Linked DNA regions of Homo sapiens: all the other regions are linked to region 3. The links come from fine-mapping of genetic effects on gene expression. A gene starts in region 3. Each other region holds a variant in brackets. All regions are shown on one strand. Distances are from middle to middle. Region 1 has its middle 73 kb from the start of PAPPA2. Region 2 overlaps BRINP2 (BMP/retinoic acid inducible neural specific 2). Region 3 holds the start of BRINP2 (BMP/retinoic acid inducible neural specific 2).

The links.
Region 1: its variant is fine-mapped to the expression of BRINP2 in gastroesophageal junction (GTEx, PIP 0.96).
Region 2: its variant is fine-mapped to the expression of BRINP2 in esophagus muscle (GTEx, PIP 0.94).

What each region holds. Positions count from the first base shown.
Region 1 is chr1:176,386,164-176,394,347 of GRCh38, forward strand. No RefSeq gene overlaps it. Among named protein-coding and RNA genes, the nearest start is that of PAPPA2, 73 kb to the right of the region's middle. The variant T/C (reference allele first, on the strand shown) is at 4,657.
Region 2 is chr1:177,216,047-177,224,230 of GRCh38, forward strand. All of the region lies in intron 1 of BRINP2 (BMP/retinoic acid inducible neural specific 2), which reads left to right. Among named protein-coding and RNA genes, the nearest start is that of BRINP2, 49 kb to the left of the region's middle. The variant G/T (reference allele first, on the strand shown) is at 4,716.
Region 3 is chr1:177,165,931-177,174,114 of GRCh38, forward strand. It overlaps BRINP2 (BMP/retinoic acid inducible neural specific 2), which reads left to right and starts at 5,028. Exons shown (of 8, transcript NM_021165.4): 1 at 5,028-5,802. RefSeq lists enhancers at 4,666-5,255, 5,256-5,844.

The sequences.
Region 1 (8,184 bases), 780 kb before region 3:
TGTATGTGGTTCTAAAGTTAAATCTATATAAAGACCTGTTCAGAGAAATACTGAATATCCTAGTCTCCTCCACAATATTCTTTACCTACAGGTAATTAATTTTTAATATTATGATTTATTCTTCCATTTTCTGTTTGTTACATAAATAGTCTTTTACCATGTAGTATTTAAACAAATCTCTTTTTATAGTGTATATAAACTTGGTATTTAGAAAAATTCACATTTCATTATAATTGTCTGTGAATACATGCATTTTAATTTTTCCTCTTAAATTTGAATATGTTTTATTTCTTTATCTTGTCTAATTGTAGTGGCCAGCACTTCCAGTACAGTGTTAAATAGAAGTGGCGAGAATGGAGGCGGGAGCGCAGTGGCTCACAATGGTAACCCTAGCACTTTAGGAGAGTGAAGCAGGTGGGTGGATTGCTTGAGCTCAAGAGTTTGAGACCAGCCTGGGCAACACTGCAAAAATCAATATCTCTATTAAAAAAATAAAAATTAGTGAGGCATGGTGGTGCATGCCTGTAGTCTCAGCTACTGGAGGCTGGGGTTGAGGTGGGGGTAGGGGGTGCTGAGAAGGCAGGAAAATCACTTGAGCCCAGGAGGCTGAGGGTGCAGACCTTGCCAGAACTTCCAATACTATGTTGAATAGGAGTGGTGAGAGAGGCCATCCTTGTCTTGTGCAGGTTTTCAAAGGGAATGCTTCCAGCTTTGCCCATTCAATATAATATTGGCTGTGGGTTTGTCATAAATAGCTCTTATTATTTTGAGATATGTTCCATCAATACCTAGTTTATTGAGAGTTTTTAACACGAAGGGATGTTGAATTTTATCAAAGGCCTTTTCTACATCTATTGAGATAATCATGTGACTTTTGTCTTTGGTTCTGTTTATGTGATGGATTACATTTATTGATTTGCATATGTTGAACCAGCCTTGCATCTCAGGGATGATGCCAACTTGATCATGGTGGATAAGCTTTTTGATGTGCTGCTGGATTCGGTTTGCCAATATTTTATTGAGGATGTTCACATCAATGTTCTTCAGGGATATTGGCCTGAAAGTTTCTTTTTTGTTGTTGTGCCTCTGCCAGCTTTTGGTATCAAGATGATGCTGGCTTCATAAAATGAGTTAGGGAGGAGCCCCTCCTTTTCAATTGTTTAGAATAGATTCAGAAGGAATGGTACCAGCTCCTCTTTGTACCTCTGGCTGTGAATCCGTCTGGTCCTCGCCTTTTCTTGGTTGGTAGGCTATTAATTACTGCCTCAATTTCAGAATTCGTTATTGGTCTATTCAGGGACTCAACTTCCTGGTTTAGTCTTGGGAGAGTGTATGCGTCCTGGAATTTATCCATTTCTTCTAGATTTTCTAGTTTATTTGTGTAGGGGTGTTTATAGTATTCTGTGATGTAGTTTGTATTTCTGCAGTGTCAGTGGTGAGATCTCCTTTATCATTTTTTATTGTGTCTATTTGATTCTTTTTTTTAATTTCTTTTTTTTAACTTGTATTTTAAGTTCAGGGGTACAAGTGCAGGTTTGTTCCATAGGTAAACTTGTGTCATGGGGGTTGTTATATTTCTTAATCTGGGTACTGAATACACAGGTTTGAAAATTAGTAGATGCTATCCATTTAGGTATTGCAGACTCTTCTGAATAAATACTACATTGTAAACAATATCTTCTTTTTTTTGAGTTCATCATTTAAAATTTTTTTTTTAAATTTTATTATTATTATACTTTAAGTTTTAGGGTACATGTGCACAACGTGCGGGTTTGTTACATATGTATACATGTGCCATGTTGGTGTGCTGCACCCATTAACTCGTCATTTAGCATTAGGTATATCTCCTAATGCTACCCCTTCCCCCTCCCCTACCCCACAACAGTCCCCAGTGTGTGATGTTCCCCTTCCTGTGTCCATGTGTTCTCATTGTTCAATTCCCACCTATGAGTGAGAACATGCGGTGTTTGGTTTTTTGTCCTTGCGTTAGTTTGCTGAGAATGATGGTTTCCAGTTTCATCCATGTCCCTACAAAGGACATGAACTCATCATTTTTTATGGCTGCATAGTATTCCATGGTGTATATGTGCCACATTTTCTTAATCCAGTCTATCGTTGTTGGACATTTAGGTTGGTTCCAAGTCTTTGCTACTTGAATAGTGCCACTATAAACATACGTGTGCATGTGTCTTTATAGCAGCATGATTTATAATCCTTTGGGTATATACCCAGTAATGGGATGGCTGGGTCAAATGGTATTTCTAGTTCTAGATCCCTGAGGAATCACCACACTGACTTCCACAATGGTTGAACTAGTTTACAGTCCCAACAACAGTGTAAAAGTGTTCCAATTTCTCCACATCCTCTCCAGCACCTGTTGTTTCCTGACTTTTTAATGATCGCCATTCTAACTGGTGTGTATTTGATTCTTCTTTCTTTTCTTCCTTATTAGTCTAACTAGCAGTATATCTATTTTGTTAATTTTTTCAAAACACCAGCTCCTGGATTCATTGATTTTTTTTTTTGGAGGGCTTTTTTTGTATGTGTGTTCCCATCTCCTTCAATTCTGCTCTGATCTTAGTTATTTCTTGTCTTCTGCTAGCTTTTGTGCTAGTTTGCTCTTGCCTCTTTAGGTCATTTAATTGTGATGTTGGCGTCTTGATTTGAGATCTTTCTAGCTTTCTGATGTGGACATTTAGTGCTATAAATTTCCTTCTTAACACCGCTTTAGCTGTGTCCCAGAGCTTCTGGTACGTTGTCTCTTTGTTCTCATTGGTTTCAAAGAACGTCTTGATTTCTGCTCTAATTTCATTGTTTACCCAGGGGTCATTCAGGAGTAGGTTGTTCAATTTCCATGGAATTGTGTGGTCTTGAGTGAGTTTCTTAATCCTGAGTTCTAATTTGATTGCACCATGATCTGAGAAACTGTTTGTTGTGATTTCATTTCTTTTGCATTTTCTGAGAAGTGTTTTAGTTCCATTTATGTGGTTGATTTTAGAATAAGTGCCATGTGGCACAGAGAAGAGTGTATATTCTGTTGATTTGGGGTGGAGAGTTCTGTAGATGTCTATTAGGTCTGCTTGGTGCAGAGCAGAGTTCAAGTCCTAAATATCCTCATTAATTGTCTGTCTCATTGATCTGTCTAATATTGACATCAGGGTGTTAAAGTCTCCAACTATTATTGTCTGGGAGTCTAAGTCTCTTTGTAGGTATCTAATAGCTTGTTTTATGAATTTGAGTGCTCCTGTATTGGGTGCATATATATTTATGATAGCTCTTCTTGTTGAATTGTTCCCTTTACCATTATATAACAACCTTGTTTGTCTTTTTTGATCTTTGTTGGTTTAAAGTCTGTTTTATCACAGACTAGGATTGAAACCCCTGCTTCTTTTTGCTTTCCATTGCTTGGTAAATTTTCCTCCATCCCTTTATTTTGAGCCTATGTGTGTCTTTGCACATGAGATGGGTCTCCTGAATACAGCACACCAATGGGTCTTGACTCTTTATCCAGTTTGCCAGTCTGTGTCTTTTAATTGGGGCACTTAGCCCATTTACATTTAAGGTTAATATTATTATGTGCGAATTTGATCCTGTCCTCATGATGATATCTGGTTATTTTGCACACTAGTTGGTGCAGTTTCTTCATAGTGTCATTGGTCTTTGCATTTTGATGTGTTTTTGCAGTGGCTGGTACCAACTTTTCCTTTCCATATTTAGTGCTTCCATCAAGAGCTCTTGCAAGGCAGGGCTGGTGGTGATGAAATCATCTGCTTGTCTGTAAAGGATTTTATTTCTCCTTTGCTTATGAGGCTGAGTTTGGCTGGATTTGAAATTCTGGGTTTAACATTCTTTTCTTTAAGAATGTTGAATATTGGCCCCCAATCTCATCTGGCTTGTAGGGTTTCTGTTGAGAGGTCCACTTTTAGTCTTATGGGCTTCCCTTTGTAGGTGACCTGGCCTTTCTCTCTGGCTGCCCTTAACATTTTTCCTTTATTTAGACTTTGGAGGATCTGATAATTACGTGTCTTGGGGTTGGTCTTTCTCATGTAGTATCTTAATGATGTTCTCTGTATTTACCAAATTTACATGTTGGCCTGTCTTGCTAGGTTGGGGAAGTGCACCTGGATAATATCCTGAAGTGTGTTTTCCAGCTTGTTTCCATTCTCCCCTTCTCCTTCAGGTACTCCAGTCAATCGTAGGTTTGCTACTTTTACATAGTCCCATATGGAGCCTTAGTTCATTTATTCATTCCTTTTCATTCTTTTTTCTCTAATCTTGTCTGCATGCCTTATTTCAGCAAGGTGGTCTTCAAGCTCTGATTTTTTTTTTTTTTTTTTTTTTTTTTTTTTTTTTTTTTTTTTTGAGACGGAGTCTCGCTCTGTTGGCTAGGCTGGAGCACAGTGGCATGATCTTGACTCACTGCAACCTTTGCCTCTTGGGTGCAAGTGACTCTACTGCCTCAGCCTCCCAAGTACCTGGCAGTACAGGCATGTGCCACCATGCCCAGCTAATTTTTGTATTTGTAGTAGAGACAGGGTTTTGCCATGTTGCCCAGGTTGGTCTCAAACTCCTGAGCTCAGGCAATCCACCTGCCTCAACCTCCCAAAATGCTAGGATTACAGGTGTGAGCCACTGCACCCAGCCCAAACACTGATA[T/C]CTTTTCTACCACTTGGTCAATTCAGCTTTTGATATTTATGTATGCCTCACAAAGTTCTTGTGTTGTGTTTTTCAGCTCCATCAGGTCATTTATGTTTCTCTCTACACTGGTTATTCTAGTTAGCAGCTCCTCTAACCTTTTACAAAGGTTCTTAGCTTCTTTGCATTGGATTAGAACATGCTCCTTTAGCTCAGTGGAGTTTCTTATTACCTATCTTCTGAAGCCTACTTCTGTCAGTTCTTCCATCTTATCCTCCGTCCATCAGCACCCTTGCTGGAGAGGCATTGCAATCATTGGAGGAAAAGAGGCACTCTGGCTTTTTGGGTTTTCAGCATTTTTTCATTTGATTCATTCTCATATTCATGAGTTTGTCTAGTTTCAATCTTTGAGGCTGCTGACCCCTGGATGGGGTTTTCATGGGGACTTTTTTGTTTTTGTTGATGTTGTTGTTGTTGCTTTCTGTTTGTTTGTTTTTCTTTCAATGGTCAGGTCCCTCTTCTGTAGGGCTGCTGCAGTTTGCTGGGGGTTCACTTCAGGCCCTATTCATTTGGTTCACTCCCACACTTGGGGATGTCACTCAAAGAGCCTGGAGAACAGCAAAAATGGGTGCCTGCTCTTTCTTCTGGGATCTCTGACTTTGAGGGGCAGTAGGGTTGCTGACACCAGTAATTTCTGACCAGGACTGCTGAGACCAACCTGACACCAGTAGGATTGCTCCTGTATAGGGTGTCTGACAACCTATATAGGGGACAGGATCTGTTTAACAAAGCACTTTGACTGTCCTTAGTGGAGGGGGTGGGCTTCACTGGAGGGAAACCCACTCATCTAGGCTGCCTGGATTTCTTAGAACTGCTAGGAGGAAAAGGCTAAGCTTGCTGGTCTGAAGAGAATGCAGCCACCCCTCCCGCTAAGGGCTCAGGCCCAGGGAGGTCAGGGTTTTGTCCTTGAGCCTCTGGCTGGAGTTTTTGCAGTTCCCGCAGGGAGGCCCCACCCAGTGAGGAAGGATGGGTCAGGGTCAGGCCTGAAAAGGTGCTCTGGCCACAGTCTGCCACAGCTGGTATGTTGGGCTGTGGGGAACACCTCTTTGGACTAAGCCATACAGCCTCCCTGGCTCCAGCAGGGGAAAAGCACAGCTTGGAGCTACAGAGATAGCTGCCACCTTTCCCCCACTCACAGAACTTATCATGTTAGGCAGTTATGAGTCCCAGTGCTGGATGCAGCCCCTTTTCCAAGGAGTTCAAATGGCTTAGACAGCAGGCAGCCACAGCTGTGGTGCTGGTCACCCCTCCCCTTGGGAACTTGGCAGTCTAAAGCAGATTCTAGTTGAGAGGCTGTTGAGAATGTTTGAGGCTCTGGGGTTCGGACCTTAGGCCCTGGTGGTGTGGGTTCACAAGTGGGATCTTCCATACCACACTGCCCTTCCTTCCTCTCTGTGGATCATGCCAGCCACCTAGTCAATTCTGATGAGAGAACCTGGATAGCTTGGTTGCCAGTGCAGAATTCACTCGCTAATTATGATTCTTTTCAATAGGAGCCTCTGATCACTGCTACTTCTGGTAGGCCATCTTGGCCCCACCCCCCTTATTACCTTAAAGGTTTTAAAGTATGGATTCAATTAAAAAAAAGTTGTGTGTCTTTATAATAATGTATTTTTTCTTGAGTGAGTTTGAATTTGTGTCTTTCAAGAAGTTAATTTCATTTAATATTTCAAATTTATTGGTGTATAGTTGCTCATAATTTTTATCTTTTTAATTTCTATAGATTCTGTAGTGATATCACCTCTCATATCTCTGATATTAACAATTTTTCCTTCCTTTTTTTTCTTGTGAGTCTGGCTAGGAGTTACCAATTTTATTTTTTTTTCTGTCTTTTATATATATATATATATATTTTATTATACTTTAAGTTCTAGGGTACATGTGCACAACGTGCAGGTTTGTTACATATGTATACATGTGCCATGTTGGTGTGCTACACCCATTAACTTGTCATTTACATTAGGTATATCTCCTATTGCTATCCCTCCCCCCTCCCCCCACCCCACAACAGGCCCCTAAGAAACTACTTTCCATTTAATTTATTTTCTCCATTGCCTTTCTCCTATATATGTCATTGGTTTTCATTCTAATCTTTATTATTCATTTTCTTTTGCATATGATGTCTTTAGTTTGCTCTCCTTCTTTCAGTTTGACAAATTAAGGTGGAAACTGAGGTCATTTATTTGAAATGTTTATTTTCTAACAAGATCATTTATTATTACATATTTTCCTCTAACCTCCACTTAGCTGCATCTCACAAATTTTGAGATTTTTTTTTTTTATTGTCATGTAGTTTAAAATACTTTCTCTAGCTTCCCTTTTGATTTCTTCTTTGGCACAGTTTCTTTAGAGCAGAAATCCCCAACCTTTTTGATACCAAGGACTGGTTTCATGGAAGACAATTTTTCATGAACTGGGGAATGGTAAGTTTTAGGATGATTCAAGCACATTTACTGTGCACTTTATTTATATTATTATTACATTGTAATATGTAATGAAATAATTATGTAACTCACCATAATGTAGAATCAGTGGGAGCCCTGACCTTGTTTTCCTGCAACTAGACAATCCCATCTGGGGGTAATGAGAGACAGCAATAGATCGTTAGGAATTAGATTCTTGTAAGGTGTGTGCAACTAAGATCCTTCATATTGCACAGTTCACAATAGGGTTCGTGCTCTTATGATAATCTAATGCCACCACAGATCTGACAGGAGGTAGAACTCAGGTGGTAATGCTAGCAATGGGGAGCTGCTGTAAATACAGATGAAGCTTTTCTTGCTTACCTGCTGTTCAACTCTTGCTGTGTGTCCTGGTTCCTAACAGGCCGTGGTACCAGGTTGGGAACTCCTGCTTTAGAGAGGTTTTCTTACATAGTTTATGTGTTTTATTTTTAATTTGGTTCCATTGTGGCTTGAGAACATGCTTTGTATGATTTAAATCCTTTAAAATTTATTGAGCCTACTCTAATAGCTCATAATATGATTTCTATAAATACATGTTCATGTAAACAACAGAATGTATATCTTATTGTTGACTAGACATTCTAAATGTCAATTAGGTCATCTTGGTTTAAATGCAATTTAAGTGTCCTATATACTTTATTGTTTTCCTGTGATATCAACTATTAGGAGGTGGTGTTGAAATCTTCAGCTGTAATTACGGATTTGACTCTTTTTTTCTTGCAGTTCTATTGGTTTCACTACATTAATTTTGAAGTGCTGTTATTAGGCATATAATCTTTTAGTATTGTTTTCTCCCCTGATGAATTGATCTCTTTATCATTATGAAATGAAATACTTCATCCCTGGTAATATTCTTTGCTCTGAAATCAACTTTGTCTGATATTGATGTAATTATCCCAGCTTACTTTTGATTAATATTAGCACATTATGTTCTTTTTTTCTCTCAGCCTTTAACTTTTAACCTATTGGTGTCTTTATATGTGAAATGAATTTCTCATAGGTAGCAAATATTTGGGTTATGTTT
Region 2 (8,184 bases), 50 kb after region 3:
CCTTGGATTTTTATCTATAAATTCACTCTATGTCTTTTGATTGGAGAATTTAATTCATTTATTTTCAAGGTAATTATTAATAGGTAAAAACTTACTATTGCCATTTTGTTAATTGTTTTCTGGTTGTTTTGTGGATATTTTCTTTCTTCCTCCATTTCTGTCTTTGTAGTTTGATGGTTTTCCGTAGGGTATGTATTTTGTTTTCTTTTGTTTTGTGCATCTCCTATAGATTTTTGATTTTTGGTTGCCATGAGGCTTACATAGAACATGTTACACTTATAATAGTTTATTTGAGGCTAACAGTTTAGCTTTGATTGCATACAATAACTCTCCAGTTCTCCCCCATTCCAGTATTTTATGTTTTTGATGTCTGAATTGTATCTTTTTTAAATATGTTTTACTTGACAATTTATTTCAGTAACTGTTGTTATTAACAATTTCATCCTTTAATGCTTGTACTAGGGATAAAATTACTTTGCATACTACTATCACAGTCCTAGGCTATTCCACATTTTGCTACATAAAACTTATACTATTAGGTTTTGTACTTTCATAAATTTTATGTTAATAATTAGCATCTTTTAGTTTCAGTTAAAAGAACTCTCTTTTGCAATTCCTGCAAGCAGGCCTAGTGATGATAAACTTATTTAACTTTTGTTTGTCTGGGAAAGTTTTTATTTCTCCCTCATTTCTGAAAGACAGATTTTCTGAGTGAAGTATTCTTGGTTGGTAGTTTTTTTTTTTTTTTTTCACTTCACCACTTTGAATATATCATCCAATTCTCTCCTGGCCCGCGGTGTTTCTGCTGAGAAGTTTGCTGATAGTTTTATTGGGACTCCTTTGTATGTGATGTATTTCTTATCTCTTGCTGCTCTCAGAATTTGTTCTTTGTATTTAATTTTTGATAATTTGATTATTAAATGTCTTGGTGAATTCTTTTTTGGTTAGAGTTTTATTGCTGACCTCCACATTTTGTATACCTAGGTGTTGGCTTCTTTTCTTGATTAGAGACGTTTTCATCCATTATTTCTTTAAATATGTTTTATGGCCTTTTTCTTTCTTTCTTTCTTTCCTCCTGGAATGCCTATGATGCATAGGTTAGGTTTCTTGTTTGATGATGTCCCATTATTCCCATAGATGTTCTTCATTCTTTATTATTATTATTTACTCCTCTGATTGGGTAATTTCAAATTTTCTGTCTTCATGTTTACTGATTTCTCAGCTTGATAAAGTCAGCTGTTGAAGCTTTCTATTGCATTTTTCAGTTCAGTCACTGTAATCTTCATTTTAAAAATCTCCATTTAAAAAAAAAGTTTCTATTTCTTTGTCAAACTTCTCCTGTTTGTGTATTATCTTCGAGATTTTATTTAATGTTTAATCTGTATCTTCTTGAAGTTTACTAAACATTTTTAAGAGGATTATTCTGAATTTTTTTTTCTGTCCTTTTATCGATATCTTTGTCCTAAGAGTCTATTGTTAGAGCTTTGTCACTTTCTTTTGGAGGTGTTATGAGTCTTTATAATCCTTGTATCCTTGTATCGGTGTTTATGCATTTGTGGAGACAGACAACTTTTCTGGCTTTTACAAGTTTGTTTTTTTGGCAGGGATAGAAATTCACTAGTTAATCTACCCCTATGATTCTGGATGGGTCATTCTGGATGAGTAATGATCCTGGAAAGGCAGGCTTGCTTTTAAGTTCTCTAGATGGCTGGGCTACTGCTTTTACCTGGAATTTGTGTGGGGCAGCTGACTAGGCTTTGCTGTTTGGCAAGATCACTGGCTGAGCTCTACTACTAGGCTGAGCTGCCATATGGATGCTGCAATCACATCTTGTCTGGCAGGGCCACAGGGTGTAATTCCCTGGCCAGGTACTGCTATTTGAGTTCAGGAGTTGACCAAGGTTGCAGAAGAGGCCCCAAAGTTAAGTAGGTTGGGATGAATGGACTAACTGCTATGGTCAGTAGAAATGCATGACTGAGATTTGCCTTCCTCCATGGGTGAGGTGTGGGGATGGGCTTTGAGGCCAAGAGAAGAACTGATTAAACTCCCAGGTGTGGCAGAACTAGTGCCTGCTTTTTGTCAGTATTTGCTACAGTGATCAGCAGTCTCCTTGGGCAGAGTCTAGGGGTAAGCTTTAAGGCTACAGGGAGTGTAGATTAAGCTCCTGACTGTAGCAGATCTAGTGCCTGCTTGTTGTGGAAATTTGCTGCAGGGGGTCTTCTCTTACCTAGGCAGGACCCTAGGGTAGGGTCTGAGGCTGGCCATCTAGAGACTCAAGCCATGTAACCCTTCCCACCTCTTCTGGGAGTGACCAGCTCAGCTCTGTGGGTGAGCTACACACCCACAGATACCTCTGATTGAGCACGACTAGTGGCAGGTGCACTGAGCTTTTACCAAAATCTGTGATGTCTAAATTTGCATAATTTTTTAATATGTTTCACTTGACAATTTATTTTACTGTTCTCTGTGGGCTCCACCTCCTGACTTTGTTTTTACCTGACCCCAGATAGTCTAGTCATGTGGTTTTCTCCTCCATTCCCCATTTCCAATGAGGTGAGAATGGGGTGAGTTGCCTGGGAAGCACCTCAAAATGCTGGGAAAGTTGGATATTTGCTTTCCCGCTGTAGAAACCATGGGCCCTAGGGAATTTCCTCTGTGTGGCACTGTGCTGACTTAGGGGAGAGAGGAAGGGCAACGTGGTCAAAGCAAAACCATTTCTCTTACCCCTTCCATGTGGAGTTTGATTCAGTTCCATGGAATACACAGGTGACTCAGGCTTATTCCCACATTTTCACCAAGGTGTTTTTGACTGGATAGTTGATGTTTCTCTGGGAGGAGTGAAGCCTGGGACCCCTTCTTCCACCATCTTGCTGATGTCACTTCAACTTGCCATTATCTATTCTATTCTTGCCACTATCTAATCTATTATTAAATAGATTGCTAATATATAAGCTTTGGTTGTCTGTAAAAATCAATCTAAAGGAAGGAGAGTTATTTGGCTTAATAACTGAAGAGAGAGCTTGCAGTGATAGAACAGCTTGCTCCCCATCAGTAGTCCCTTGCAAACTGCCAGTGAGCCTTGGACCATACTTTTAGAAATGATGCTTTGTGGTCAGCAATTCCAAAAGGTTAATTATGATATTCCAGTCTACTTGTGGAACTTCCAAGCTAGCTCCTGCCACCACACATCATTTCCTCAATGCAGCAGCTTTATTGATTGCACCCCGTTGTCTCCTTACTTCTGCTATCCCCCTAGCTTTCCACTAATACCAGTCAAAAGCCTATGGGGGCCTAAAGAGAGAGCCCTTTATCAAACAAACAAAGCACTTAGTGGTGGGTGTCTTGGACTATGCTACAAAAAGGTACAATGATTCTTTCTCTGTGTACTTATTGACATTCATTGAGCGGCATATAGTTTATTTTAGCTAGAGTTTGTGATGTAGCATCTATATTTAATTCCACAAGCTGTCAGGCAACTCATATATTTACAAACACAATCCTGGAAACAATGTGATTGCTGGTCACAGCTGCATCTGTAACATCTCAGGAGCTCTGTGCTGTTTAGCACAGCTCAGGGCATTATCATTTTACATTCTGGTTTGTGCCAAGGTCCAAATAGGGCAGAGCTTGGGCTAAAAGTTCAGATTCAATGACAGGCCTGGCAGAAAGCCAAGAGCAAGAGTAACATTGAGGGCTGCAGGTCATAATGGAGAGTTGCTTATCAGCCCCACCTCAATTTTTCAGCCTACATAGTTATGAGCAATTTCTCTGTGATTGGCTTGGGTTTATTTTGGCTTCCCGGGCCTTAAACCACCCTATGTATATACAGAGACTCAGCTGGGAAGTGAGCTGGGGCTTAAGCAACAGAAGCCAGTCTGCTGGGAGGAGGCAGGGACAGAGAAGGGTCTCTCTCTGGAGTACGAAAGCAGCTGTCAACAAGGGATTGAAGTAGATGACTAAGCCAGCTTCAGTAGCTAGATCCAGGGAGATGGGCAGGCCATGCCCAGGGGCAGGGCCAAATGGTTTGATTCAGGCAATCTTGGTAACAGGAGGTCCAATGGCTAGAATATATAAAGAGGAACTCTAAGAGAGGGTGCAGTCCAGAAGCAGGTAAAAGGGCAGGAAATTCCTGGGGGCCTATCTATCTACAGCAGGAAATGGGGGAGTGGAGAGCAGGAGGCACAGAAGCCAAAAAGGGTGTGGTGTAATTTGGATATTTGTTCCCACCCAAATCTCATGTTGAAATCCCCATTGTAGGTAGGGTGTGGTGGGAGGTATTTGGATCATAGGGGCAGATCCCTCATGAATGGCTTGGGTCATTCCTTTGGTGATAAGTGAGCTCTCACTCTGAGTTCACGCCTATCTGTGGTTTCAAAGTGTGCAGTACCTCCCCCACCTCTCTCTCTCTCTCTTGCTCCTGCTTTTGCCATGTGATGTGCCTGTACCCCCTTCACCTTCTGCCATGATTATAAGTTTTCTGAGGCCTCTCTAGAAGTAGAGCAGATGGGAGCACCACACTTCCTCTAAAGCCTCTGGAACCATGAGCCAATCAAACCCTTTTCTTTAATCAATTACCCAGTCTTGGGTGTTTCTTTGTAGCAATGCAATAACGGCCTAATGCAGGGTACAAGCCTCTTACACCTTAGATGGACATGCGGAGACTGGGCAGAAAGGAAGGGGATGAGGAATCTGGGCACAGGCTCAGTTGGGTTTGG[G/T]GATATGAGGGAAGAGCACTGTAACTCAAGGGCATGCAAGAAACCAGGAGTTGTGGATTGGCCCATGGTGGAGGAGTACGCCTAACCTGTGGTTTTTGAGACAGCACAGGTGAAATACCACTGGGTTCTTATGAGGCCATGCTGACAGGCCATCTAAACAGGAGCCACACAGCTTCCAAAAAAGCAGCATGCTTATCTAAGCTGGAAAAGTGATTGTAGGTGAATCCTGCTTGTGTACTTTAAGATTTTAGACTTTTCTTCAATCTTGCAATTTTTAAAATGAAAATGACCCAGAGGAATCTAGGATAACCTCATGTGAATACAGCTATCTTATTCAAGTCTGTAGCTGTTAGATTTATAGGTCATGTAAATAGTATTAAGGACTCCCCTTGGGAGAACATTATTGGCTTCTCTGTTCCTGAGTTTTCTTCTCTGTACAATGGGCATAATAACAGCATCAACCTTACAGGGGTTTGTGCATAGTAAATAACGCATGGAAAGTGTTTAGATTGATGTTTGGTACACAGTAACTAATATGTAAACATAATTAGAGGTGATTATAATGGCAACTCTGGGACTCATGGGTTTTGAATTTTGAAAATTTTACCATTGACACACATAAAACGGAGACAGACAAGCTCTAGGCTTAGTGTTAAGAGACCCAAGTTCAAGTCCTCACTTTTCCCCAAACCAGTGGTGGGTCTTTAAATAACGTATTGCACTTCTGTGACTGAAAGTTTTCTCACTTATGATACAATGTGACATGAATTTTATCACTGGATCCCATCAGAATGTTGCATCAAAATCTCCTGGGAGGTTTTTAAAAAATATTCAAAATTATAAAAATATACCCCAGCCCCATATCTCAGTTATTTCCCTCTTTCCTCCCTTCCCTATTTCCATTCCACTCCCTACCTTCCCCACATACACACACTACCACATGTGCTCCAGGCTGCTGAGAACCACTGGGTCAGGTAATCTCCAGGATCCCATCCCTTCTCCCCAGTTCCAGGACACGATCAGGTGGAAATTAACCAGGGAACAGAGGCTGTAGGAAGCCAAAGCAACCGCATAATCAATGCACAGAGCTTTGAAAGGCTTCTTGGAGAAAATGAGGCTAAAAGATGTGAGAGACCACAGTAGACTCACAGAGAGGAAAGGCAGGAGTGAGTACAATGGCAGGGCTCATAGCCAGACAACTGGGGAATCAAGTGACCACAGGATGAAGGTGAAAGGGCCCTGGGTTGAACCCATCACTACAGTCATCAGCTGCAGAGGACTAGGGATGGGGGACTGGTGAGGTTATTCAGAGTGACCTGGAGAAACCTCTAAAAGGCTAAAATGAGGAAACGCCTTTTAACAGAAATCTTACCTTTTTAAGCTTCAGTTTTCTCACCTGTAAACAACAACAAAACAAACAAACAAAAACTAAGATTGGATGAGTCTATGAACTGTTTTTGGACTCTTTTTAGTGCTAATAACCCCTGTTGGAGCAATGGAAAAAATAATGGTGAACACACAGCACTCACCATGGGCCAGACACCTTTTTTTCTTTTTCTTTTCTTTTCGAGATGGCGTCTCACTCTATTGCCCAGGCTGGAGTGCAATGGCACGATCTGGGCTCACTGCAACCTCCACCTCTCAGGTTCAAGTGATCCTCCTGCCTCAGCCTCCCGAGTGGCTAGGATTACAGGCACCTGCCATCATGCCCAGCTAATTTTTATATTTTTAGAAGAGACAGGGTTTCACCAGGTTGGCCAGGCTGGTCTCAAACTCCTGGCCTCAGGTGATCCACCCACCTCAACCTCCCAAGGTGCTGGGATTACAGGCGTGAGCCACTGTGGCCGGTCAGGCCAGACACCTTTTAAAGGCTTTACAAATATTAACTCTTTTAATCCTCACAATCCTATGGAGTAGCACTATTATTGTTATCTTAAAAAAAAAAAAAGAAAAAGAAAAAAACAAACAAAAAAACAGATGAGGAACCTGAGGCAAAAGTGTTGGAACCAACCAAGGAAGGCAGGCAGCCAGGTTCTGCAGTCTGTTCTCAAAACCACTCCACTTTGGAACAGCCGATCAGGGGAGCTCAGTGACTGGAAGTGGAAGGCAGATTGGTTCTCAGGGCCGCAAGGAGTGGCTGGGGTTTCTTAATGATGGAGGAGGATGGAAATGGTTTTGAGGAAGGTTGATCTGCAAGGAGATGAAGTTGTAAAGGCTTTGGGATGAGCGACTTTTTATTTAGAAGTACTATTTGATCAGCAGTGCCATCTTTCTATTTGCTAGTGATCCCCCTGACTGGAAGGGAGGCTCCGGAGTAGAAGGGTCTCCCTGGTCTGCACATTCGGCCCCTGGCTTTATCGCTCAGGGCTCTGGGCAAGCCTGTCAGTTAGTTTGTCTCACCAAGGAAAGCACCAAGGACACCCGGCAGGCAAGTATGAAGCCTCAGCAACTGACAGATGAATCTGCCCTTGTTAAGTGAAGGGCTGGTTATCACACAGAGAGACCTATAAATTTGGGGCCTCAGAGGAGGGATCCTACTAGGTCTAATGTCACTAAAGCTGTACATGTGTGTGAGTGCTGTGTGTTTTTGTGTCTGTGTACCTTTTAAGCTCATTACAGGATCCTAAGTCCTATGTTTTGTTCCTGCCCTATGAAAGCAAAGGCTGGGTCCGTCTTGTTCATGAGATTTACTCCCATCCCTTGGGACAGTCCTTGTGCATAGACATTACTTAATAACTGATTGACTGTTTGATGAACAGAGGCAAGTGAGGTTAAGGAGAGCTGAGTTATAGGTCTCAGAGTCAGAATATGCGAGTTTCACTTCTGTTTTATTGTGGAGTGATCTCCAGAGGGTCTCTTTGGCTCTCTTGGCCTCCTCTGTTAAAGTTCTTAAATTAATGTAAGAATATTTAGTAAACAGTAATTATGATTAGCTCTTACCATTGCATAATTATTAATATTATTAACCTGATTCTATACAGTGAGGATATCTATACCCTCACTGATTTTAAGTCATTCCTGACCAGCAGTGGGGAAATGCATCACCTATTGCTTGCCAGTTCCATGCCAGTCCTGAGGGTGACACTGAAGGTCGAATCCTGGAGCCTGGGGAGGGCAGTGACAAAATGTGTCACCCCTGCTCAGGTTCAAATGGAAGAATTATGGGACCTGATGAGGCTCTACAAAATGAAACCAGGAGCACATCGTCAAGGCAAAAGCACCATGGTTAGTCTCTGTTGAAGTTGACAGCTTATTGCAACAAGAGGGAAGAATAAAAGCCACAGATCTGAGCTGATAGCACCCCCACATCCACCCTTGCTCTTAAGAATGTCCTGTCATCTCTCCTATCTACCCTCCCTTTCTTGTAAAAACAGGAGGTTTTGCATCAAGATATTGCGGATGACAAGAACAAATAACAATTTCTGTGATTTTTTTTTTAACAACTGACACCCTCAGATTTATTCAAGAA
Region 3 (8,184 bases):
AACTGAACTTTCTCTCACATGATAACCAATAACTTATTTCAAAAGTGTGTCCCTCCATTGTTATTGGGTCAATGCTAACTTCAATACTAGGTGCTGTGAAGACTGTGTTATTTGTAGTTCTCACTCTAGAAATTTAATGCACTACTGTTCTAAAAGAGGACCCCTACTTAAGAAACAATTACATTTTCATTCTACCTGGTGTCAGTTTATTGGCATATGTGAAAATATGTTCTTTAAAAGACAAAAAAGCTTTTGCCATATATTTTACAAAGTTTATCTAATTGAATAGAGAAAATAAGCCATATTTAAGGTAATGTTTAAGTAGTGAAAGATCATTTACCACATATGCAAAGAAAAGAAGAACAAAGACACTTTATTAGTTGAGTTTTTATATGTAACTTATCTGGGAATTAACCCCAAGTTATCTTACCATGCAGCATTGCAAACTACTGTAAACTACTGTAAAAAAGATGTACCAGCTAACGACTTTTGAAAACTCATCCTGATCGTCATTGCTCCCCTAAGAGATACTGAGTGAGACAAAAACCCCATGATATCTCTTTCATTCTGTTATCCCTAGCATAAACAAAAATCTAGTATTAAACTTACTTATGCAAGGTTATTTGCCATTGAATAATTATAGTGGATGTCAGGAACACACCCTTGATACTAGAATGTGAGAAATGGCATGTAAGTACCTGATCATGTATTCATCCAATCTCTCACTTAACAGATAAGGAAATTGAGACCCATTAAAGAGTGATCTATCTTCTATGGAGCTAAGACCATGAACAAGATTTCTTTGCCCACTGCTCTTTCCACTATATGGTTATGGTACACTAGGGTGCACCCATGGATAATCACTGGGCTTTATGGACCACAGTAATTAATTCAGCAAATGTTTGTGTACCTACTGTATCATAAGCATTAGGCTAAGCACAGCCAGAAAAATACTACTCCTGCTTTTGAGTAGCATATAATCTACTGTCACTTTGAAATCTTTCTTTCTAATTTTCTGAAGATTCTTGAGTCATGTTAGAAAGCCCAAGTAAACCATTTAGGGTTGATTTTCCAATAAGTCAATATCTAGTCTTCTTAAAATGTATATTGAGTTGGGCATAGTTGGTAGTTGGTATCTCAAGTCTTTCTAGACCTCTCTAAACAAAACCAAACAAAAGAAACAGTAGAATTTTTTAAAAGAGAATATATTATTCCAGAGTACTTGATTCCTGTAAAAATGGAAATAATGTCACATGGCCCTTTCTTAGGGAATTAAATACCTAGAGATGTGGGTAAAGGTTGAAGTACATGGAAACCAGGCCATCTCTAATGCATGATGTTTTACATTTAGAGGAGATGGGGGAAAATGTTATGCATCTCAATCATCACCTTTGTGTAGAGGCATAATGATATAGTGAAATAATAGAACTGGATTCAAGACTTAACTTCATAATATTCTTATTTGGAGATAAGCTTGGACCATTCTTGTCTTTAGTTCCCCATCAACAAAAGGGGCCAATCATCTCCGCTCACCCCTGCTGGTCACAGAAAATGTTTCTGACTTTCATCACCAAAGAGTAATGTTACTTGCTCTTGAATTTTATAAATATAGAATCTTAGAGTATATGCTTTTTTGTGTCTTAATATTTTCACTCATCATTATGTCTGTGAGATTTATCCATGTAGTTCAATATTGTATTGCTGTGTACTAGTCCATTACATGACTACATGGCATTTATTCATTCTCAGAAAATTTCTATTCTTTAAAACACTGTAAAACAGCAAGCGCTGTTATCTCCAATCTTCACTTTTCTCCTGAGATACACCTTCCTGTATTTAAGCACCAATGGCCTCTTTCCTTGACTATTAAAATAGATTTTGATTCCTTTTCCTCCTAGCAACGCATTCTGTACACAACTACCAGGTTGATCTTCATGAAATCTAACTTTCATTATGTCATTCTAGTTTTTCTTTTTCTACATGATAAAGCTGAAAACCCATGGTTTAGAAATTTTAAAACTCTTCTAATCTCACACTGTTTTTTAGATAGTTTGCTCACTGCACTATATCTCTATCCTCCCACCACACATGTGCACACAGACACACACATCTCTCAATCAAATTAAAATCTATTTCCTATTTTCACTCCTCCCATAACATTCTGTCCACCTGAAGTGCAACACTCTTTATTCTTCAGATTGTCCCATCTCTCCAAGCTAATCTGCAGCTGCACCTATGCAGTGAGAACTTCCATCACTTCCCTTCTTTTAGCTCCATTCCCTGGGCATTTATTTACATCTCCCCCAACATCTACACATATACATACACATACACTCAGGAAAGCAAGAGCTATTTCCTAATACAAAGTCTTAAATTCAATATTCTTATTTGCAAAACAGGAATAATACATAGTTTTGGGGGTGGTTGTGAGGAGGAAATGAGATTATGTATGTAAACAATGTGACACATTTTAGGCATTTAGTTGGCACTCAGTAGCGATAGCCTTTGCCACTATCACCTTATTCAATTATTTTGGCAAGATAATAGGCTTCAGAGTCATCTTCATGAGATTTTCTCCAGTGTAGTAGTCAAAGCAAATTAAGTAATGTATAGTCCTTGGTGTTTTCCCAGAGGAAATGATTGCATACATCCACCAAAAGACAAGCACAAAAACATTTATAACAAGTTTACTTATAATAGCCAAAAAACCCCAGAAACATCCCAAATATCTATCAAGAACAGAATGAATAAATGCCATGTAGTCATGTAATAGAGTGGTGCACCGCAATAAAACATACAACTACATGGATAAATCTCAGAGACAAAATGATGAGTGAAAGGATCAAGACACAAAAGAGTGTATACTCTAAGATCCTATATTTACAAAGTTCAAGAGCAAGTAACATTAATCTTTGGTGATGGAAGTCAGAATATAATTATCTCTGGGGAGTGGAGGGTTTTGACTGAGAACGTTCACGAACATGCTTCCTGCAGTGCTGGAAATAAAGTGAGTAATGGTTACATTGATGCATATATAGGCAAGAATTAAACTATACACTTGTGGCAATTCTTAATGTATATTCTGCCTCTTTAAAATTTTTTACACGGCTTCAGACTTTATAGGAGAAGAAAGTACAAGCAAGTTTTCTTTTTCAAGTTGTCTTCTTATCTGCCATCACCTCTTTCCTCTCTCTTTTACAGATTTTGGAAATTTTAACTTTCTTTCCATTGAAATTAGCAATCCTTTGTTCAACCTCTCCCTCTATTTACCCACTCCCTTATGCTATTTTAACATTTCAGTATGTTGTCACTTGGGACAAGTTCAGTGGGTCTCTGCCTCTAGAAATCACAAAAGTAAATAACTCAGCAGTTGGGTAGCAATAGATTTAGGCTCTCAGTGGTTCTCTTGGTTATTTTATTCTAGAAAGAGAGCTCAGGACCCTGTGGGACCACCATTCTCTGACATGTTTTGTAGCTTAGGCAAACAGATACTTGCAGTATGCAGAAGGAAGTTCAACGTTGTATAAGATACAGAGAAGAAAATATAGGTGAAAGTGATAGATGTGTGAGTCTGAGGGGATGAATGAAGAAAATTTCTAATTTTTCTTTATTCATTCAGAACTTACGGCTACTTGATGCAGTTTAGCTAATCTCCATGTGTACTTCTTACACATTCATTAAATCTCTACATACTTTTTTTTTCTAGTTCTTTACAAAATAATCTCCGATGTTGCTCTCCATTTAAGGAAACTAAATTGAAAGACTCCTCTCGCTTTCTGACTATATATTTATCTTCTTCATACTTCCCCCACCACATGACTTAGCATGGATCTCCCAAGTTCCTTCCCCAGCTCCAGCCCCCAGCTCTTCCCTTGAATTGGATTTTTCTTCAACTATTACTCTTTTTCCTATGCTCCTGCCAAAATCTAGTTTAGTATGCTAGTTAGCGGGACATGTTTCAGTTTTGTACCCTCATTAGGATATCAAAAATATATACTTCACACTTCAATGTAAAGTTAATATTTTCTTCCCTTCTCCTTTCCTCCCTTTTCCCTCCACCTCCCTCCCTTTTTTCCTCCCTCCCTCTCTTTCAATTCACAGGCCCAGCAACAGCACCTGCTTCACAGAAACAAGGCTGGTCCTGTTCTGATTTCTCTAGTCTTCCTTTAAAAACTAAACGGAGATGCACAGTCCCTCTTCCTGACACACACAGAAGTGAAAGGAGACACACAGAGGGAAAACACCACAGGCAAAACAATTCCCTTTTTTGGAGGGACATTTTTGAAACTTAATCTCTCCCCAGAAACCTGAAGTTCTCCTCTTTGCCTTTGTCCTTACAGTCCTGGTGTGGGGGCAGAATGTTTCCTGATTTAGCTGTCCTGGCCTCTAAATCTGTTTCACTCTCTAGCCATCTTACTGGGTTCTTGCTCTCTTTTGCCTCTCTCTCCTCTTGGGTCTCTGGGGTGTGTGTGTGTGTGTGTGTGTGTGTGTGTGTGTGTACTATTTCTCACTTGGGGGCTCATTTCTAATTAAGTAATCCAAGAGGCTAAAAAATGCACAAAACAACCAAATGAAACCTCAAATTAGATGGAAAATGGCTCAGATGGGTCCCAATCTCTGGGAGTTCTAGTTAAGCAAGCAAACAAAATGGGCTGGGATAAATGATTATTGTAACTCAGGAAGATTAGAAGAAAATGTAATTAGCTCCCCAGCTACTTCTTGTTCCCCAGCCTTTTTAAGAGTGTCCAACGCCCCACCCGTGAATGTACCCAAGGCTTCCTTATACACACCAAAAAGTCCCCACTGCAACGCTGGGAGGGTTAACAGAGCTGGTACCCCAGCCTGCCAGCTCACCAAAGGAGAGAGCGGTGAGGCTCAGAGCCCGCCCCCTGCCAAGCCGCCCAGCCAATGGGCACCTGTGGGGAGTGTGGCGCTGTGTCCCATTGGCTGCCAACCTACATGCATAAGAAAGAAAGAGAGAGGCAGGCAGGGCAGCATTGTTATCTTAAGACACTCATCTGGTGTCTGAGTCTGCAGGTGACACTGCTTAGGTACGGAGCGCGGAGTCGGAGCGGGGACGCGCCGGGCTGCAGCTCTGGGATGCAATCCGCCTGCCTCGCAAGCTGCTCGCCGCTGCGCTGGCAGCGCTTACGCTGAGCTCGGAGGATCCCATTAGGACTTGCCCGGGGATGTGCACCTGCCGTGCGCTCCGAGGTCAGTGGCAGGTCTGCAGGCAGCCGAGGGAGCGGTGAAGCCGGAAGACCTGTCTCTGCCCATGTGCAAGGCAGTGATTTCGGGTGAGAGAGCGGGTGGGTGAGTCTCTTTAGAGTTGGAAAGAAGGCAAAATCTTGGGTTTCTCCTCGGCGGAGGGACAGGGGACTCCCCCAGTTGGGTCTTGCACTTCCCTTACCTCTCCCACCCCGCGTGCGCCCCGGCCCAGTGCCGAAGCCCCACTTCAAAGATGCTCTGGGAGACCGGGATCCTGGCTGCTCAGCGGGAAGGCAGCAGGCAAGTGGTCTAACGTTGGCGGCGGTGGCGGTGGCGGCGGCGGCGGCACCGACAGTAAAGCGGGGAGCAAGAGAATTTGAAAAGAGACATCCGCTCCCTCTCACACGCTGAGGGGGAGGCATTCGCGTTTCCCCAAATGAGAAAGAACCACAAGAAATCATGAAGTAAAAACTTTGGAAAGCTGCCACTGGAGATGTTGCACAAAAACCTGGAATCTTTTAGGAGTCTCCTCCCAGTCGTTGAAGGTTTGGGGAGCAGCTGATACAGCAAGGAGGGCTCTTGCAAGGATTCAAGGTAACAGTGCAGGGTTTCGGTGATTTTTCTCCCCTTTTCATTGTCCTTTTTGGTGTGTCCGTTGGTAAAGGGACCATTTTGCTCTCATACAACCCTCTTGCCCTGGTGCCTGGCAGTGGCAGGCAGAGGGAATGATGCCACCTCTCCTAGTTTCTGTCTTGTGGAGTTGAGCAATGGACTTTGGGGTTGAGCTAGAGATTGCTCTGGTATTGCCTCCTGGTGTTGCATGGCTGTCAGAGGGTTTGGGCTCCCTGCCTGACCTATATTGCTTTTGCCTGGTTTAAGTCCTCAAAGTTAGTGCAACTCCTATTAGCTTCAGAAAATTCAATAGGGCTGCATAATTGCAGAAGATGACGAGGACTTTTGCCTGCCCAGCTGACGCTGGGAGGTTCATTATGTTTGGGAAGGAGCCCAAAGAGCTGAGGTTACAATGCACGATATCTATATTATCGTGCTCATAGAGCCCTATGGCATGTTTCCCATGCACATGCAGTCAGGAAAATAAAATTCCAAACAGTGAACCCTGTAGGTTGCAAATAGTCTCCCCAGGGTGGTGGCAGAAGCCCCATTGATTGACTTGAGCCTGGCAGAGCACTGGAGACACTAGGGAAGAACATTGCTGTGCTGAAAGGTGGGATGTGCTGGTATCATCTAGCAGATCTCTGTCTCTGTTTTTGTGATCATCTGGGTACACTGTCGAATGCTGCCTGTGGTGTGTGTATGTATGTGTGCTTGTGCTCACAGCTGTATGCAGGAAACAGGCTGCCCACAGAAGAACCAAGCATGTCCAGCACCCTGTCCAAATCACGGATGCCTGGAGTGTTCCTGCCTAGTAGGAACACGAACTTGTGAGCTGTTGTTCCAGCCCAGAGGACTCTTCTCCTCACCAAGCAGTCCCTCTGCATGGTACATATTTATCCAGGGTATATAGACCTAAGCCAAATGTTAACCAATGTTCAAGCTAATGCACTGTAATGTGATTGAACAGACCCCTCTGTAAAGAATTGTGTGTGTGCTCTTTGCAGCCCTAGGAGCAGGGTGCTATGAGCAGAAACAAATGTTTTGTTAAAAGGATAACAATTATAAAAGGTCAAGCTTATAGTTGGGTAATCTAGGCCTTATTCAGCAGGGACATTGTTATGTCAGCATAGACCAATCAGAGGGATAAAAGGTATATTATAAGTCAAGTATTTCTGCTTCTGTCCTTCTCCAGACATGTGCATGTTGAAGTGACTCTCTCTGACCATGCTCGCTAAAATACATGCAATGCCAGTATTAACCAAGCAACTAAAGTATACCAAATCCCCCGGGGGGCAGTCTGATGACATCAGGCAACAGCAAAGTGATGCTGGAGTTTGTGTGCTTTCCCTCCTGACTCACACAGTTGTGTGTATGTTATTTGTTTAAGGCATGACCCTCTGGAGTCCCCCTTCACCCAGAATAAGTTGCTTTGCAGCACTGAGGGCATGACCGAGACATGCTGCCACAATGATCCTGTCTTATCAATATCAGAGCTGCTGCCTACTCTAGGAAAAGATGCATGCCTTGCTTCTTTGAGGAGGATATAATTTGAAAAGGCACAGAGCATGTATATTGTGAAATATTTGAGATAAAGGAAGCAAATGTCACACCATAGTCTCCCCTTCTGGAGGTCAGCTGGCGCCAAAGTGTTTGACAGCTGGGCTGCAGCCATGGAGAAGACAGGAGCATTCTTGACTCTTACTTCCCCTCTTCACCAAAAATGGAGCTGGCTTTGTCTCCCAGAATGGAGTGATGTGTGCTGCAGTGTGGGCACAAGAAAGGAGGTGAGGAGAAAAGGGCTGGGGAAGGAGGAAGGTTCCTGCTCTGTCAGCATGGGGCTGGTCTCAAAGATGGGGAGCATCTTCCCTTTTTGGCCCTCAAAATTATCTTCTACGTGCTCCTTTCTGGCCTCCTGACAGGTTGTTTACTGAACAAGGCCAAAGGGCAAAGAACAACCCTGTGTCATCACCTTCTCCTGATCCCCTTTCCCAAGACACAGGCTGGCCACTGGAGAGCATCACAGAAAAATGATACACTCCCTTGAGGCACTGCTCTGAAATCCCTCCCCAACTCACAAACAAGAGGTAATCTGGAGGGACTTGAGACATCTGCGTGGGCACTTTCTGCTGACTGGGATGCTTAGTTGAGGTTTCCTGGTTAGTGTTTTGTTTTCCCCACTGCGCAGTGTATTTTTGGTGATTCAACTCTTTCTCTTAAATAATAAGACCTTGTATACATTTTATAATGGCATCCTCTTCCAAAGGGCTGACAGCACTTTCCAGAGCTCATCTAATTAATCCTCACACGGCTTATTGTCTCATTTATCTTTGATTACCCTAAGAAGTAAAGCTAAAATGATTT